Linked DNA regions of Homo sapiens: region 1 is linked to region 2. Evidence: fine-mapped QTL for protein levels in blood plasma. A gene starts in region 2. The other region holds a variant in brackets. All regions are shown on one strand. Distances are between the middles of the regions.

What was found. PIP is the chance, under the fine-mapping model, that this variant and not a neighbour inherited with it causes the effect. Sun 2018 read protein levels with aptamers (SomaScan).
Region 1: its variant is fine-mapped to the plasma level of the PDGFRB protein (Sun 2018, PIP 0.95).

Annotation. Positions count from the first base shown.
Region 1 is chr5:150,133,117-150,145,226 of GRCh38, reverse strand. It overlaps PDGFRB (platelet derived growth factor receptor beta), which reads left to right. Exons shown (of 23, transcript NM_002609.4): 2 at 8,174-8,219; 3 at 9,349-9,672; 4 at 10,211-10,477; 5 at 11,219-11,346; 6 at 11,467-11,641. The coding sequence starts at 8,180. Among named protein-coding and RNA genes, the nearest start is that of PDGFRB, 17 kb to the left of the region's middle. RefSeq lists enhancers at 7,126-7,637, 8,148-8,659, 8,660-9,169, 9,170-9,681. The variant C/T (reference allele first, on the strand shown) is at 9,716.
Region 2 is chr5:150,152,502-150,158,499 of GRCh38, reverse strand. It overlaps PDGFRB (platelet derived growth factor receptor beta), which reads left to right and starts at 2,655. Exons shown (of 23, transcript NM_002609.4): 1 at 2,655-3,103. RefSeq lists enhancers at 1-737, 4,895-5,414, 5,415-5,935.

The DNA.
Region 1 (12,110 bases), 16 kb after region 2:
AGAAAATCACAAGGAAGAGAAAATACATTCAGTTTATATTAAGTGGAAGTAGATCACTGAAAAAGTCTTCACCCTTGTCTGCACGTTAAGTAGACTGGGAAGGAGGAGGAAGAGGAAGGGTTGGCCTTGCTTTCAGGGGTGGCAGAGGCGGAAGAGGTGGAGGAGTGGAAGGGTGGGAAGGAGGTGGATGTTTCACATGTGTGGAACATTCACGTGTTAGTGGACCTGCACAGTTCAAACCTGTGTAGTTCAAGGGTCAACTGTACTAAATCAGAGGTAGCTATTATTATTATTGTTATTTTTAAGGCTGTTGGAGGCCCAGATGGGGCCGGGGTGGGTGGGGGGACTCAGGGCCAGGAATCCACAGGGCCCTGGGGGTAACCCTCAAGGCACCGCAGGAGGCAGGAAGTGCTTGCTCTGCAGCCGGTGGGCAGGGGTGTGCAGCAGGCCTCCCTCCCTCACTGACCTCCTTCTCAGGCTGCTTCCCAGCCTTCCTGGGGACCCAGGCCCCCTCCCTTGGGCCCCCAGCAGCCGTGAGGCACACACTGAGCGCTTTCCCACGCACTGTTCCAAGTAGCCAGCCGCATCGCTGCCCCCACCCCCAAGCACAGGCACTCTGACGGGTGAGGGGGTGTTTGCTGCAGGAGAGCGGGGCTCGGGCTGGGGAGATCAGCCCGTTCTTTATCAGCCTGGCCCCATTCCAGACAGATGTTTCATCTTATTTTGGACTTCCAGAAAATAGGTCATTTCTTTCCATTGTGTTCCCTGGGGAGGCCTCATGGGGAGAGGAGCATGCAGTGAGTGACGAGTGTGAGGGCCTGGCTTGGGCCCTGGGGAGCTGGAGGGGCAGCCGCCTTCCTCCCTCAGTTGTGAGGGAGCTGTCAGGGCCGGGCCGGAAGATTCTGAAAGGCTGGGCAGAGAAGCCAGCCTTTGCCTGAGGGGGATGGAGAGCAGAGGAGGGCCGGAGAGGTCACATAGGTATTTCAGAAAGGTCCCTCTGGCTGGGGTGTGAGAACAGGTGGAGGGGACAGATTGGAGGTGAGGAGATTGGCGGTGGGATAGCCAGAGGCAGCCGAGCCTGTGCTGGAGGAGGGGGTGCAGGGGGCTTAGCAGCCTTCCAGGGAACCAGCGCTATTCTTCCATCCAGTTTGGACTTCCAGAGCAGCGGGAGCACACGCCAGGCCCCATCTTAGTCGATTTCTGCTGCTTTGTTCAGGGGACTTTGTAGGTACCTGGAGAAACATAAAGAGGACCCCGGGCCTAGAAGCAGCGTGGCACAGAGAATGGCTCCAACACCGAGTGGGCTGCGCCGGGCTGCTCTCTTTCTGTAGCCCTTAGAGTGATCCCGAGGCTGGTGGGGAGGTTCGTGGTGCAGGGGTGGAGCACTGAGCCTTCTCCAACAACTGGAAGTGGAGCGAGCATAGGATTGAAGGGGGCGGGTGGGAGCCTCGGCCACTTCCCCAGTTTCTCCCCTCCACCTGTAACTGTCTCCTCACCCTCCGATCCTGCTCTCTTCTCTGGCTCCCAGGATGGGGCTCCCTGATCACATGACCCAATCACACCCACATCTCAGCCTGCTTGGGGACAGCCACATGGACCAGACTTGCCGCCAGGCCCAGGCTGTGCTGCTATCCCTTTCCTACTCTTTAGCTGCTGGCGGGAGGACTTCATCCCTGGCTCCAGATGCCTCTTGCCCCCACAGACTCCCAGGCCTGGAACTGGCAGCCTTCTCTGAGCTGAGTCATGACATGGGTCCCTCCCCAGCACCCCCACCCCGAGCCCAGCATTCCAGCTCAGCACAGCTGCCTTCCCAGAGTGGAGCCCTGAGGGCCACAGCATGTCAGCCCTGAAAGTGCTCCCAAGACACTCTTGCCCACCCTTTTGCACAGATAAGGAAACTGAGGCTCAGAGAGGGTCAGGACTGTACAGTAGTCACCCTTAGCTGCAGTTTCACTTTCTGAAGTTTCAGTTACCCCAGATCAACTGTGGTCCAAAAACATTAAATGGAAAATTCCAGAAATAAACAACTTACAAGCTTTAAATTTTGTGCTGTTCTGAGTAGTGTGATGAAATCTTGCACTGTCCTGTCTGTCCCGCCCAGGAGTGAATCATCCCTTTGTCCATATACGCTACCCACCTGTTAGTCATCAACAAAGTCCACTACTGACATCCAGCCATCAACACCATCATGGCTCGGTGGTCCAGGATCACTTGGAGCAGATGACCTGATCCTTCTGATAATGTCTGGAGGTCAGTAGTAGCCTAACGCTACTTCACAATTCTTACGCCATCACCTCACTTCCTCTTATCACGTAGGCACCGTGTCATTCCACGTCTTCACAAGAAGAGTGAACGATACAGTAAGATATTTTAAGAGAGAGAACACAGTCACATGACTTTTATTACAGTATATTTTTATCATTGTTCTATTTTATTATTATTGTTGTTCATCTCTTACTGTGCCTTATTTATAAATAAAACTTTATAATAGGTATGTATTTGCAGGGAAAAGAACATAGTATGTATGGGGTTTGGTTTTATCCAAAGTTTCAGGCATCTACTGGGGCCTTGGAATGTATTCCCTGCAGATAGGGGGGACCACTATCCTATAAGTGGGTGTCACAGCCGGGACTAGAGCCAGGTCTTCTTACTTCCCACCCCAACCCCCCTCCAAAGTCTGTCCCAGGCCTGTAAAGTGCCCCGGTACGGAGAACAGAAGACTGGACTGGGTCAGGAGACTGGAGTCTGTGGCTCACTTCTCCCAACAACTTAGCAAATTACCTCCTCTGAGTCTCAGTCGCCAATCCCTGCCTGGCTGGGCTCGTGCAGAGAATGTGACTTTGAAACAAAGGTCAATGTGTGGCAGGACAGAGGTGTGCTGTGGAGAGGGCAGGGGCAGCTATAGCCTGAAGCCTGGGGCCTTGAGCCACCAGCCTCACATCTTAGCAGGGGCTGGAGGCGGGGAGCTGCGCAGCCAGGTGAGCTTCAGCCCCACCGATCACCCGAGCCCATCTTGTCTAGGCCAAAACAATGGGCCCTCTTGCTTTCCTTCCCTAAGCCTCAGTTTCCCCACGAGCACAATGGAGCACAGGAAGGCAGTTAGATCAGATAGATGATCCCTGAGGGCTCTGGCGTGCTGACATTCCAAGACTCTGACCCCATAACCCCATGGCCAGGCCTCCTCCTCCCTCAGGCATTTGGTTTATTCAGAGCATCCCAGGCCTGAGACTGCCTGCCCCCAGCACCCCCCTCTCCCTGCAGCATGGCCCTCTCTCTCTCATCTCACTGCTGTTTCTACCCGGCCTGTTCCTGGCCTCCAGACTGAACATCCCACTGTCCCCTCAGTGCCCACAGACCCTCCCTATCCTAAACCTGCTCAGTTGCAGCTCTCACTCCTGCTCTTTGACCTCATTCTCATCTCAGAAAATGGCATCGTCCCCTCAGCACGTGCGCGTGTACACACACACACACATACACTTCTGCCTCCCAGTATTCCAAGCCAGATACAGAGGTGCATACCTCCCTCTCCAGCCCCTCAATATTAAGTCACCCAGTCCTGTTGATTCTCAGCTAAGTAACTCTCAAATCCATCTGTTTTTTTCAGTCCCCACTGCCTTCTCCCCAGACCCAACCAAACATGCACGTTGGTCAGAGAAGCGGTGGAGCTGGTGGCATAGAACACAGAGTCACACCACTTCACTTTAATCTCTGCTCTACCCCTTCTGGCTCTGTGTTCCTAGCCCAGTTATTAAATGCTCTCTGCCTCAGTTTCCCCACTGTAAAATGGAAATGATCACTGTATCTACCTCATAGAGTTGATGGAGAATCAAGTGAGCCAATACGTGCCAAATGCTCAGAATGGTTCCTGGTGCAGTAACACGGGCTTTCTGGCTTGTCTGTTCATGCATATGGCTGTGTGTTCAGGTGAATTTGGGGTTCTATGTGCACATGTTCTGTGCATGTTGTATGTGCTGCATACACATGTGAACTGTTGCACACGGGTGCATCTCCACGGGTGCTGGGCACAGTGGGAGCTGCGCACATGTGTTTTGTGTGGGTGTGTACATGTTTAGTACCTGCATGAGGGCTTGGCACCCACATGGCCTCTTGCATACGTATGTGTTTCAGAGGAGTGTGCGAGGAAGTGCGTAGGCAGGCATCTGTGCATCTGTGCTGTGTGTATGTGCTGACCATGTGCAGGCTCCCCCCATCAACCCCCGCAGCAATGCAGGGCCCCCTCCCTGGCCTGCCTGTGTCGTGGGAGCCTCAGGACCCTGAGGGAGGGAAGCTGTTGCTGGCGGATGTGGCCAAGATGGGCTGGATTTATTTAGATTAAGGCGGTGGGAAAGGAGTGGAGAATTGTACGTGCTGGGAGGAGGGAAGTCTGGGGCTCTGAGAATGACTCCCCAAGCATGCTTGCTCTCCTGGACTTGGGGCACCCACTCCTCTCCCCTGGACTTGGGGTCCTTACTCTGCTCCTTTGACTTGGGGTCCCCACTCTGCTTCCTTTTGACTTGGAGTTCCCAGTCTGCTCCCCTGGACTTGGGGTCCTTACTCCGCTCCCCTAGACTTGGGGCCCCCCACTCCTCTCCCCTGAACTTGGGGTTCCACTCTGTGCCCCGGACTTGGGGTCCTCACTCTGCTCCCCTAAGGGGTCCCTCTGAGTCACGTGAGGAGCTGGGCATGATCTCCACTTTGGGCCTCTGAGCCTACAACCTGGCCAGAATAGGAGGAATCAGGAGGGGTTCCTGGCACATAGCACTCTCTTCATGGGCAAAAGGGGGACACCTAGGGGTGCCCTCCCTCTCTCTGCTCTAGAGGCCTCCCTGGGCAGGAGAGTACAGCAGATAGGGGGAGTGCCTGCTCTCTGACTGTGACATCCAGCTTGTCCTAGGTGGCCCTTCCCTAGAGTACAGTCCTCCTAAAGAGGGGAAGTTGTCACAGGCAAGCCCACTACCACCAAGTCAGCTGCCTGGGCCTCCCTGGGATTGGCTGGAACCAGAACAGCCTCTGGGAAGCACAAAGAGGCCTAACACATTTGGTGGAAAATGTGGGGTATCAGGGAGTCATCCAGGATGGCCTGGGAAGTCATGTCTGGGTGCCCTAAGCCCTTCTCTGCCCTCCCTGGCCCTCCAGCCTCTTGTCCCTACCACTCTTTCCTTGCCACCTCCTGGGGTTCCACGTCACCAGCGGAAAGTCCCCTGAAACACTGTTGAAACACTGTTGTCTAACTTTTTTTTTTTTTTTTGAGACAGAGTCTCACTCTGTCACCAGGCTGGAGTGTAGTGGCGTGATCTCAGCTCACTGCAACCTCCGCCTCCTGGGTTCAAGCGATTCTCCTGCCTCGGCCTCCTGAGTAGCTGGGACTACAGGCACTTGCCACCATGTCCAGCTAATTTTTGTATTTTTAGTAGAGACGGGGTTTCACCATGTTGGCTAGGTTGGTCTCGATCTCTCAACCTCGTGATCCGCCTGGCTCGGCCTCCCAAAGTGCTGGGATTACAGGCATGAGCCACCATGCCCAGCCTTGGTCTAACTCTTAATTGTATAGATGGGGAAACTGAGGCCCAGAGAGGGAAACAACTTGTCAAAGCCCGCACAGCAAGTCTGTGGCTGAATAGTCATGGAAATTCCTTTCGTGGAATGAGATGGCTGGTGGATTCTTATGTGACTCTAGCCTCAGGAATGTAGCCCCCTCCTGCTTACTAGCCCCCACCTCCTCAAAACACCCCGGTAAGATTCGTGGTGACTAGAATCTTCTCTTTGGCCTGTCAGAAAGGCAGAGCTTCACCATAGGGACAGCTCTTTGAGATGACACCTGCCAACCTCTCTATATGGATGGGGACGCAGAGTTCAGAGAGGCTGGAGACTCGCTCAGTCTCACAGTGGGTCCCAGGGTGCTTATGAGGGGAGCTGATTGCTCTATTCATAGTAAAGCCAGTCCGAGATCCCTGGGGTGCCTACAACCTCCCTACGGCATCCACACTGCCTGCCTGTCCTCTCCCCACAGCTTGAATCTGCCTTTTTGCTGTGTGACTGGGGCATGCTTCTGTCCTTCTCTGGGCCTCTGCTGCCCATTCAAAAAGCATACCTCCTAGCTCAGAGTCTCTAAGCCACCCCCAGCCCCAGGCCCAGCAGAAGAGAGCCTGAAGGGGAGAGGATGGAGTGCCACATGGGAGGAGGGTCGGGGGCTGCATGCCATGAAGGCCCAGCCCACATAGCCAGCCCAGCCTTCCAGAGCCAGGCCAGCCCCGCTGCAGTGACCTCCCTTCTCCTGGCCAGCCGGCCAAATTCCTCCTTTAGAATAATAAACAGTGTGGCCAGCCAGGGAGACTGGGAGAGGAGGGGCAGGGAAGCTGAAGTGACCCCCTCCCCCAGCCTCTGCTAATGATTTTCTTTGGCTGAGATCTCTAGCAGGAAGGGGGCAGCCAGAGGGGCACCGACGGAGGGGCAGATGGGCCTCTGTGGGGGCTGCTGGCTCCGCCTTGGCGCTGCTCCCTCCTGACCAAGGAGGCCTGGCATCCAGCTGGAGGGGCTGGGGCAGAGGAATGGTGGGGAGCAGAGGCTGGAGGGGGCGTCAGAAGGGCTGGGCTTTGAGTCAGGAGCAGTTCAGAGAGGGGAGAGGAAGAAACGAGGAGACCTTCAGGCAGGCAGTCTGAAAGGGAGGAGGGAGGAGAAGAGCTGATTTGCTCAGACTGTTTCTTGGGGTGTTGGGAAGAGCTAAGATTGGGGGTCCATAGGCGGGAGGAGCCTTGCCTATGTCCCACCCCTGACATGTGAATGCAGCCCTGGTAGGTGAGGTACTCACCATCATCCACTTCCAGAGCTGGGGACTTAGGCCACAGGGAGAGCGATGGCACAAGAGGTGGCATGCTGGGGCCTGAACCCGGTCTGCAGACCTAAACTGAAAACTAAAAGGGGTGAGATGGGGAGGTAGGGGCAAGCTGGGCATGGCCTTCAGAGGCAGGCCAGGCTGGGCAGCCCCACAGCCAGAGGAGGCTCCTTGTTGCCTCATCATGCCGTCACCTCCCAAAGCTCATGCTCTGCGACCCCTGTCCTCTGGCGTCCTTCCTGCCAATGCTGCAGGCAGACTCTTGGCATACTTGGCTCCTGGTGGTCTCTTGGGACCTGAGGTGTGTCTTCCAAGATAGAGGAGAGCAAGGGCCACCCCATTCAGTCTGTCTCTGTCTTTGTCCTTGCTTCTGTCTCTGTCTTTGTCCTTGCTTCTGTCTCTGTCTTTGTCCTTGCTTCTGTCTCTGTCTTTGTCCTTGCTTCTGTCTCTTAGTGCCTCTGGTGCTGTCTCTCTGGGCACCTCCTCTCTGTCTCTGTGTCTTTGTCTCTTTCTACTTCTATCATTCCAGGTCTCTTTCTCTCTGTCTCCCTCTCAGACAGGCTCTGCTGTGGAATCTTGGGTAAACTTCTCACCTTCTCAGAGCCTCAGTTTCCCCATCTGCACCCTGGGGGTGGGGGTGGGGGGAGCCTGGCTTCACTGGTCTCCAAGGACCTGTGAGGCCTGGCTGCTCGATGGGACCTCTCCTGGGCCCAGCCCCTAGCCGCTGTCCCCTGGGCCTCCCTGTATGCTCTGGGCTGAGTAAAGGTGTCCAGGCCCACCTCCCACATTCCACAGCCCCGGCTCCCCGGCTTCCCTTCCCACAGCCCACAGCCTCCTCCATTTCCTGTTGTGCTTGTGGAGCTGCGGGAGTTCTCTGGGTTCTGGCCTCCCCCCTCCTCCTCCCATCCCTTTCATCACACTTTCCCAAATATTTGTCCTGGCAGATAAGAGCCTGGTATTGGAACTGTCACCCGGAGGACAGGCTGTCAGAGCTGGTAGGCTACTGGATACCATCCAGCCCAACTTCCCCTCCCTCACTGTACAGACAGGGAAACTAAGGCACAGAGAGAGTCTGGGGACGCAGCCGAGGCCACGTGAGAGTCACAAGCAGAGCCAAAGCAAAGGCCAGGACCCCAAGGCTAAGTCCGGGATGGAGAGGAGACAGCCTGTGGTCATGAGTGCCCTTTCAGGCTTGGGACGTGGTGGCTTTTGACTTCAGCCCCTCGGACATGAAGGCTGGGTGGCCCAAGCTGGGGCTCATTCTGCAGGAGCCAGGTGGTGAGATAGCCCCTGTCGCTGCCTCCACCTGCCCTGGGCCCTGACTCCTGTTTAACTCTGCAGGACACCATGCGGCTTCCGGGTGCGATGCCAGCTCTGGCCCTCAAAGGTGGGTAGATGGGAGATAAGGTAGGGGACCCGGGGGGCTGCGGAGTGGAACCCTGGAGCTGGCAGGGGTGATGTGTGCTGGTGGCAGGGCGTGAAGCACCAGGCACACTGCCCTGCCCTTCAGCTTTAGTTTTCAGGATTTCCAGTGGGCTCTGTGGAGGCCTCCAGCTGCCAGCCCTTCAGCTCAGAAAGCGTCAGTGGGCCCCTGCTTGTCCAGAACCATCAGCTCAAATCCTTTGATTGGCCCTCCAGACCCCATCCCACCTTCTGGCCCACACCCCTGGCCTCCTATCCTCGGTCTGGTGGATCTGTGGCACTCGGCTTGGACCCCTCATTGGCTGGGAGCTTCCAGGTCCCTGCTGGGCTTCTCAGCACACCCCACCCCTCACTCCTGCCCGTTAACATGTCTTCAGCTCTGCAGGGGCTGAGCGACTGACCCAGCAATTAATGACCAGCCAGCAGCCTGCCCGGCAGCTGGCCATAAGATGGACTGGCTGCCTGACCGCCCACCTCCCCTCCTGATCTGTATCACCAGGGGGCATGGAGGGCGTGGCCTGAAAAATCCTTCTCCAGGGGATGTCGTGGAGGGGGACCAATCACTTGACACACACACACCCCCAACCCCAGTTCCCTCCAGCCCAAAAGGGCCTCAGCATCTTTTCTGGCCCCCCTCTGAGCTACCTAAGCCCCTCCCTCCCATCTCTCTCCCACCCAGAGCCACCTCTGGGCCTTGGGCAGAACCTGGGCAGTCGGGGGAGGGGGCAGAGAGCTGTAGGGAAGAGGCTCAGAAAGTGACCTGGGAAGCAATGCAGGAACTGGAGGCCAGGGAATTGCTTCCCGAGGATTTCCTGGCCCCTTCTGGTGCCTACTGCCTACACATGGCACTGCTGAAGGACTCAGAGGCTGGGGTCTAACGGGACTGACAGAGGCAGTCCAGAGGAATCCCTGGGGCCTTGGAGCTGGGCGAGCGGTCCTCAGAGCCATGGCTGGAGAGCCCCAGTCTGTCGGATAAAGGAGCTGTGCTCCTCAAGGACCTGAGGGCTGTGCATACGTGGCCTCCTCGCAGGCTCAGCCTTGGGAGAGGTGCTGAAGCCCCTGTTTCCTGATGTCTGATACCTCCTCTCCCAAAGGCGAGCTGCTGTTGCTGTCTCTCCTGTTACTTCTGGAACCACAGATCTCTCAGGGCCTGGTCGTCACACCCCCGGGGCCAGAGCTTGTCCTCAATGTCTCCAGCACCTTCGTTCTGACCTGCTCGGGTTCAGCTCCGGTGGTGTGGGAACGGATGTCCCAGGAGCCCCCACAGGAAATGGCCAAGGCCCAGGATGGCACCTTCTCCAGCGTGCTCACACTGACCAACCTCACTGGGCTAGACACGGGAGAATACTTTTGCACCCACAATGACTCCCGTGGACTGGAGACCGATGAGCGGAAACGGCTCTACATCTTTGTGCCAGGTAAGGGCTCCCAGCCTGTGTGCCCACTCCTTACCCCTCTTGT[C/T]AACTGGAGGCATCAGGGGAAGTCCAGAGAGTGCTTTAGTTTATTGTGAAATGCAGCCATCCTAGAAAAGCAGACAATCATGGAACCAGCCTGGCTCAGTCGGGGAGTGTGTTCGCACCCACTCCTTGGTCTGGGTGATCTGCCTGCTCCCTGCCAGTCACCCTATTCCTGCCTCCCAAGAACTCTATATTCTCAGCTGCTTCCAATCTGCTCCCTCTTGACCCCACATCCCTTCTTCCCCATTCTCCAAGCTCCAGATATCAGCTGCATTTCAACTTGTGACTTGCCTTCTTTCTTACCCTGGCACTGTCAATATCAAACATTAGAGCTGGAAGGGACCAGCTCTAACATTTGATTTATGCTCTTCTGGGAGCATCCCTATTCTGTAACGGGGAGACAGAGGGCCAGAGATGGCAAATGACTTGCCACACAGCAATTCAGGGGATGGCCAGAAACCCAGTTCCCCTGATTTATTCACGGCTCCACTCCTGGCAGATCCCACCGTGGGCTTCCTCCCTAATGATGCCGAGGAACTATTCATCTTTCTCACGGAAATAACTGAGATCACCATTCCATGCCGAGTAACAGACCCACAGCTGGTGGTGACACTGCACGAGAAGAAAGGGGACGTTGCACTGCCTGTCCCCTATGATCACCAACGTGGCTTTTCTGGTATCTTTGAGGACAGAAGCTACATCTGCAAAACCACCATTGGGGACAGGGAGGTGGATTCTGATGCCTACTATGTCTACAGACTCCAGGGTGAGCCCCCTTTCTGGCCTGATGCTCAGCAGAGGCAAGTATAACCCTCCACAGAGGAATAGCCCTTTACAGTTTACAAAGTGTGGGACTCCACTTCCCAGTGGATTCTCACCACAGCCTTCGAAGGAAGATAGTGTTTTCCCCATGTTACAGAAGAGGGAAACTCAGGCGCAGAGAGAGGATGGAGCTTGTCCCCTGTCGCAGAATTCGATAGTGGCAGAGCTGGCCTGTGCAACATGGTCGGTGAGGGCACAAGCTTCAGAGCCAGCTGGGTCGAAATCCCAGCTTTGCTATTTCCTGTCTGAGTGACTTTACACAAAGCACATAATCTCTCTGAGCCTGCTTCCCCTCTTGTAACGTGGGGATAACAATGGCTGCCTACCTCATAGGATCAATTGTGAAGATTAAATAAAAGATGGAGAGTACCTGGCACATGTTATGTGCTCAATACATTTCTCCTGTACATAGATCTCCAGAGGGTACTTTGATTTCCAGACTGTTATCCCTTCTAGAACGTCAGCTCCATAAGAACAGAGATTTTGTCCACTTTGTTCACTACTGTTGCTCCAGTGTCCAGAATAGTACTTGGCATGTAGTAGGTATTCAGTAAATATTTGTTGAATGAATGAATCTTCTACATCAGTCATCCTTTCCCTCTCTAGCCCCCTACCCTATCCCCAAGCTGAAGTGCTAGTGGCTGGTGGTGACTTCCCCAGACCTAAGCCAATCTCTCTCTACCAGTGTCATCCATCAACGTCTCTGTGAACGCAGTGCAGACTGTGGTCCGCCAGGGTGAGAACATCACCCTCATGTGCATTGTGATCGGGAATGAGGTGGTCAACTTCGAGTGGACATACCCCCGCAAAGAAGTAATGTGGGGCCAGGCAGGGGTCGGAGGAGGGGCCAGGAACGGGTGGATATCTGGCTTGCAGGCTGATTTCTCCCCGGCCCCTCCTGATTTGGGGGGCCTGCCCAACCTGTTGCTGCAGAGTGGGCGGCTGGTGGAGCCGGTGACTGACTTCCTCTTGGATATGCCTTACCACATCCGCTCCATCCTGCACATCCCCAGTGCCGAGTTAGAAGACTCGGGGACCTACACCTGCAATGTGACGGAGAGTGTGAATGACCATCAGGATGAAAAGGCCATCAACATCACCGTGGTTGGTGTGTGCCTTGGGCTCAGCCCAATCCCCAATTCCTTCAACGCTCCCCACCCTCACCCACTTTGCTGGGTGCAGAGTGATGGTGAGAGTTGCATTTTTGATACAGTGATCAGGGCTGAGCTGGACCCAGTGCCTGTCACAGCCCCGGGGTATAGTCAGCCACACTCCAGTGCAGCCCTAGCTAGCCTCTGTGCCAACCAAAACCCCAATTCCAGGATAAACCCCAAACCAAAATGTAGTGTCAGCCCCAAATCCAACCCTATCTCAACCTAGACTTTCTGACTAGCCAGAGCCCCAGCCCCAACCTGACTTCCAAGCCCAACTGCCATCCCAGGTCCGGGAAGCCCCATCCCCAAATTCAACCTTATCACTAGTCCCAGCATCAGCCACAGTACTGACCCAGAACAGAGAACTGTTAGTACAACTCTGTTCCCAACCTGGGAGCTGGCCCCAGCATCCATATTAGCCCC
Region 2 (5,998 bases):
GAGTGCCCTGGGTTGCTCCCTGTAGCTCTGCACCTCCCACCCATATCTCAGTTGAGAGGAGGAGTGACAGTCCTGGTGCCCACCAAGGGTTAATGGCAGTAGGGGCTAAGTAATTCCAGATGGGCCTCAGGACGGCTGGGCTGGCCGGAAACTGGAGGCCGCCAGCTTCCCAGGGGAGCCACCGCCAACTGCCCCTCCCCTTTGTGCTGCATCTCTGGCCCCAGCTGTACCCCTGCCCTAGGGCCCACCAGCCTCCTCTCCCTTGCTAGAGTCCAGCTCTAAGGGAAATTGCAGACGGACCATCCCAAGGGCCTTGTAGCACAGTGAGTCCACAACTGTTATGTACAAATAGGGAAACCGAGGCTCAGGCAGGGCAAGGGACTTATTCAAGTTCTCCTGATAAGTCTGTGGCTGGGTCTTCTGACTCCCAGACTAGCTTCTTTGGGGACTAGGGGGTTGGTGTGTCTCGTGGCCTCCCCCAGGCTGGCCTGGCTGCAGAGGGTCAGCCAAGGATTCAGAGGTGAATGGCCCAGGCAGATGCTAGGAGGGGAGTCGTAAATTTCTGACGGAATCTTTGGGCACAAGAAATCCCTGTGCAAGCCTGACCTTGTGGCCTGTGGGATCTTTTCACATTCCCCTATTTCCCTGTTGCCACAAAGACCTGGCCAGGCCCCCTCTCTCGGGGTACTCTTATGGTCCCCAACCCGTGGCTGGGAACCAGTCTGAGAACACTTCTCCTTCTATGTGGTCCAGCCCAGATGCTCTGCTGGGCAATCCCGATTGGGACTAGACCAAGAAATGCAAGATAGTTGACTGTGGTGGGCATGGAATCCCAGCTCACGCAAATCCTCTGCTCTGTGAACAGGGGTCTGGGGGAAGCTGAGGAGGAAAGACTTAGCGGCGCAGAGGGAAGGAGGGCAGAGCCAGCCTCTACCTGTGTCACCTGGGACAGCTTTCTTCACCCTCTGGAATTCAGTTGCCCTGTGGGTGCAGTAGTGGGAGCAGGGGTGGTAAGCCCACTCTATATGCCCTTCTAAAATAATGCCCTTTGCCATCTGAGGGCTAGGAGTCTGTAACTGGAGATGTCTTCTGATCTGAGAAGCTGAGGGTGGAAGAAGAGACCCAGCTGGGGGAACTGGAGGAGTCTTGGCAGACCCTGGTAGGAAAGGAGAGCCAGAGAATGGAAATGGAACAAAACGGATACTTGAAAGTATCTTGTTGAGGCTGGGTGCGGTGGCTCAAGCCTGTAATCCCAGCACTTTGGGAGGCTGAGGTGGGTGGATCATGAAGTCAGGGGTTTGAGACCAGCCTGGCCAACATAGTGAAACCCGGTCTCTACAAAAAATACAAAAATAGCCAGGTGTGGTGGTGTGCGCCTGTAATCCCAGCTACTTGGGAGTCTGAGGCAGGAGAGTCACTTGAACCTGGGAGGCGGAGGTTGCAGTGAGCCTAGACTGCGCCATTGCACTCCAGCCTGGGAGACAGAGCAAGACTCCATCTCAAAAAAAAAAAAAAAAAAAAAAAGAAAGTATCTTGTTGAGTGACTGAATGAAAGAGCCACAGGGGGAACCTAGGAAGAAAGCAGGGCAGGGGGTTCATCTACACTGGAATAGGGGTCTCGGGTGGGGGTCAGATGACTTGTGTCTCTTCCATCATGTGTCTCATGAGACCTAGTTCTGCCCCAGCTCTGCCATTGCTGCGTAAGCTTGGGAAGCTTATTTTGCTCCTCTGGGCCTCAGTGTCCCCATCTATAAAATGGGGCAAATAATCCTCTCCTTGCACCCCAGGGGCTTTGAGACGTGAAAAGGAATGTATCTGTCAATATCCAGAGATATCCAATCTGTGCTGGATGACCTTGACCAAATCACATTCCCTCTCTGTGCCAATTCACCCCTGGGCCTTGGTTTGTCCTTCTGAAAAACGGCTGATCATCTTGGAGGATCTTTCCATCTCCTCCATGTCACCTCTTCTCAGCAGTGCTCTCTGATTCTCTCAGGCTTCCGTTAGGGGTCCTTCTAAATGCACTCTCAGCCTCCTGTCTGCCGACCGGGCACCTGCTTGCCCAATGAATATCTTGCTCACTAGCCTGGTGCTTCTGAGGTCAGGACCACGTCTTGCTACTGTCCCCTGCACCCAGTACAGTGTTAGAATGTAGTAAATGCTCAGTATGCTTGTTCAATGAATGAAGGTTGACTGAATCAACCACAGAGATGATCAGAGTCTCCTTTACAGATGGGGAAACTGAGGCACTGAGAAATGATCTCCCTGGGTGCCATGGCAAGGGGAGGCCGCCACCCGACATGGGCATCGGGAAAGTGGGGCCGAGGCCACTCTTTGACAAAAGTGACTCAGCAGCTGGCGGCTGGCGTGGGCTGTGGAATTTCTAAGCATCCCCTCACATCCTGAGCGAACGGGCGATGGGAGGGAGTAAGCAGAGTGAAAAGAAGAAAAACAAGAAACTTGGGGGAAAAGAAAGAGAGAGGGGGAAAAAAACTGAAATTGAAAACAGACGCACGCGTCCACCCTCCCTGCCCCGCCGCCCCCCCTTCTCCCAGCTGGGCCAATCAGAAGCCACCCTGCAGCCTTTCCCCCAAAGTGGCGGGGGAAGTGGGGGGGCATGGAAGCCCATAGTGGTGTGAGCTCCTGAGGCTGCCAGCAGCCAGCAGTGACTGCCCGCCCTATCTGGGACCCAGGATCGCTCTGTGAGCAACTTGGAGCCAGAGAGGAGATCAACAAGGAGGAGGAGAGAGCCGGCCCCTCAGCCCTGCTGCCCAGCAGCAGCCTGTGCTCGCCCTGCCCAACGCAGACAGCCAGACCCAGGGCGGCCCCTCTGGCGGCTCTGCTCCTCCCGAAGGATGCTTGGGGAGTGAGGCGAAGCTGGGCCGCTCCTCTCCCCTACAGCAGCCCCCTTCCTCCATCCCTCTGTTCTCCTGAGCCTTCAGGAGCCTGCACCAGTCCTGCCTGTCCTTCTACTCAGCTGTTACCCACTCTGGGACCAGCAGTCTTTCTGATAACTGGGAGAGGGCAGTAAGGAGGACTTCCTGGAGGGGGTGACTGTCCAGAGCCTGGAACTGTGCCCACACCAGAAGCCATCAGCAGCAAGGTAAGTGCTGGAAAAAGTGGGAACCCCAGCCCCATGCCCTGTCCCTTTGCCCTAACCTGCATCTCTTCGAGTAGGTAAAAAAAAAAAAAAAAAAAAAAAGGGAAGATATTTTTAACAAAACAAGATGAGAGGAGGCTGGGAGACTGTGGGTGATGTCAGGGATGGAGGAGCCAGTTTTCTCCTTTCCCCTGCTCTGGGGTGAGTGGCCTCCACCTCATCATCCCTGCTGCTCCTGCCTTCATCAAACAATCCTCAGGGGTTTCTGGGTGCTGACTGGGGGCCTCCAAAGCACAGCACAGTCAATGGGGAGTGGGGAGAGCTGGGAAGAGCGGGAGAGGGGAATTGGGAGAAGGTAGGCAGGGTACACAGAAAGCAGGGGACTGGGGACCTCAGGACCATAGCCGCTGTTCCTTGGCCCAAGCCTTGTTTCTAAGAATCAGTCTGGCTTTAGGCCAGTCAGCCGCCAGGCAACCTCTGGGGATTTAAATGGATTTGCAAATTTTCTAGATTCTTAAGATATCCTTCTAAACCCCCAGCAGCTAGAAAAGTTTGAGGGCTAGGAAAGTTCGAGGGTGATGGGCGGCCATGGCAACCCCCTAGCGGTCATGCTGCTGGGTCTGGGGGCTGGGACCTGGCTGTCAGATCTGGGGGCTCCTCTGTGAAGAAGGGGTCAGCCACTGGGCCATTTCCTTTGGTCCCAGGCAGCTGCTCAGGCCTCCTCGTTGTCTCCCTCCTTCTGGACTCTACCCCTTCTCCATGCCATTCTAAAGCATAAATCCAATCACACCACCTCCCTGCCCAGGATCCGCCTATGGCTCCCCAGTGCCTGGAGAAAGTCCCAGCTCCTAACAGAGGCTGCCACTGCTTGACACTTACTGCACGCCGCAACTGTGCTGAGTGCTTTATGAGACTGATCTCATGTAATGCTCACCAGCAACCCCAGAGGCAGTGACTGTTTTTACCTCCGTTTTATACATGAGGAACTTGAGGCTCACGCAGCCACATAACTGTAGCCACACAGCTAGTAAGTGGCACAGCCTGGAGAGGTTGGAATCTCCCCGTGCCCCATTACTCCAAACTTGGGCCTTTTGTTCCCGCCAGTCAGATCCCAGAATTCCCAGAAGGAATGCGCACCATCCTGCTTGTGGGCATTTGCCCTCCCTCTTCCCCCTTTCTGGAATGCCCTTCCTCATCACTTTTCTTTCAGGGATATTCCATACACCACCTCTTCCAGGCAGCCTTCCTAGGTTCTTCCTGTCTTCCAAGTGCTAGCCATGCACTTTGTGCTGAAGCCATGTTACTTGGCCCTCCCCTGTTGGTGATCTGTTTATGTTCTGTTTGTTCATCAGAGATTGTTCAGGCCCCAGCAGTCAGAACTGAGGCCGCACTTTCTGCTGGGGAAAGGTTTAAGGTTTCCCCATCCTGTGCTCTTCCCCCAGTGCCCAGCCCTGGATAGGCAGTGCGGCTGAAAAAATGTCCTGGTGAAAGGGAGGAGGAGCTCACTGAAGACCTTCTGCTCCCAAGTGTGAGACTAGAACCCAGGCCTCCAGCCTTCTCACAGGTGCCCTTCCAGGACATCGTGTGGCTACTCCAGGCAGCATTCCTCCATTGCAAGCAGGGAGGAGTATCTCTGCTTCCCTCTGTGACCTCCCAATTGCACAGAGGCCTCTAGTGACAAGTTCTGAAGTCATGCAGTCCTCCCCTGTCTCCAAGCAGGAGACCCTGAATCCACAGCCTTCAGGGACATACAGTCCCTGAACACCTACCTCATGCAGGCATAGAGCCTGGTACTTCACACACCTTGGAGTCCTCATGGCAAGTTTTTGAAATCAGTGTTATTACCTACTTTTTGTAGATGAGGAAGCTGAGATCTGGAGAGGCTAAGTGACTTTCCCAGGGCCATACGGTGAGTTAAGGTGGTGTTTAGGCTGAAGTCTGCCTGACTCTAAAGGCTTACCTCGTGCTCCCCGGGAAGCTCCCAGTCAGAGGGAAGAATCTCCATCCTCCTGCAGAGCCTGCTCCTGGCTTCAGCACCTTCCCCAGCAGAAAGTGCAGCCTCAGGTCTGACTGCTCCAAGGTCTGCCCGGGCCCTGGCTTGGTCTTGAGAGAGGAAAGAGACCATCTGGTCAGCACCCTCCTCCCAGACAGCAGTTATCAGCAGCCCCCCTCCTCTGCGGGAAGAAGAGCTGGGACTTATAATTGCCCACACATGTGGGGCAGGCAGTGGAAAGCACCGTGGATCCAGAGTCAGGAGACCCAGTGCTTGCCCTGGCTTGATTTAAATCCACCGTGTGGCCAACCTCAGACCCCCCACATCCCATCTCTGGGCTCCTTCCGCAGCTGGGAGGCAGTGAGCGCTGTGGGTAACCAGCACCAGGCTTGGGCATCAGATGACTATGCATTGACCCCGAGTCAGTTTCTGGCTGACTGTGTGACCCCGGGGCAGCACCTTGCCTCTCTGGGCCTCAATCTCCTTCTCTGTGAGCAGCAGGACCGTGTGTGGGCTCCATGAGACAACAGCATTGGCAAGGTGCTTACCACAGTTCCTGCACTTCACAGCTGGACCTCTGGCCACTGGCTGAGAGAACCACTGCTCTCCTGGCCTCCTGCATTGGAACACTTGGCTGTGAAATTAATCTGCAACCTGCAAAAGGCTCTGCCCACAGAAGGGACCTGGACACCATGTATGTTCCAAAGATCCGTGTCCATCCTCCAGGCACAGGCCACAGTCTGACTCTGAGACCAGCTGCCTTCTAGGCTAAAGGAGGGTGCTCTGGGCATTGGCTCAGAACAGGCTGCTGCTGAATGCAGTGGGAAGGGAGAAAGGGATGAAAAGGTCTTCTGAAATGCCCACCCATTTCTTGCATTTGATTCAGAACCCAGTGGGCAGTGGGT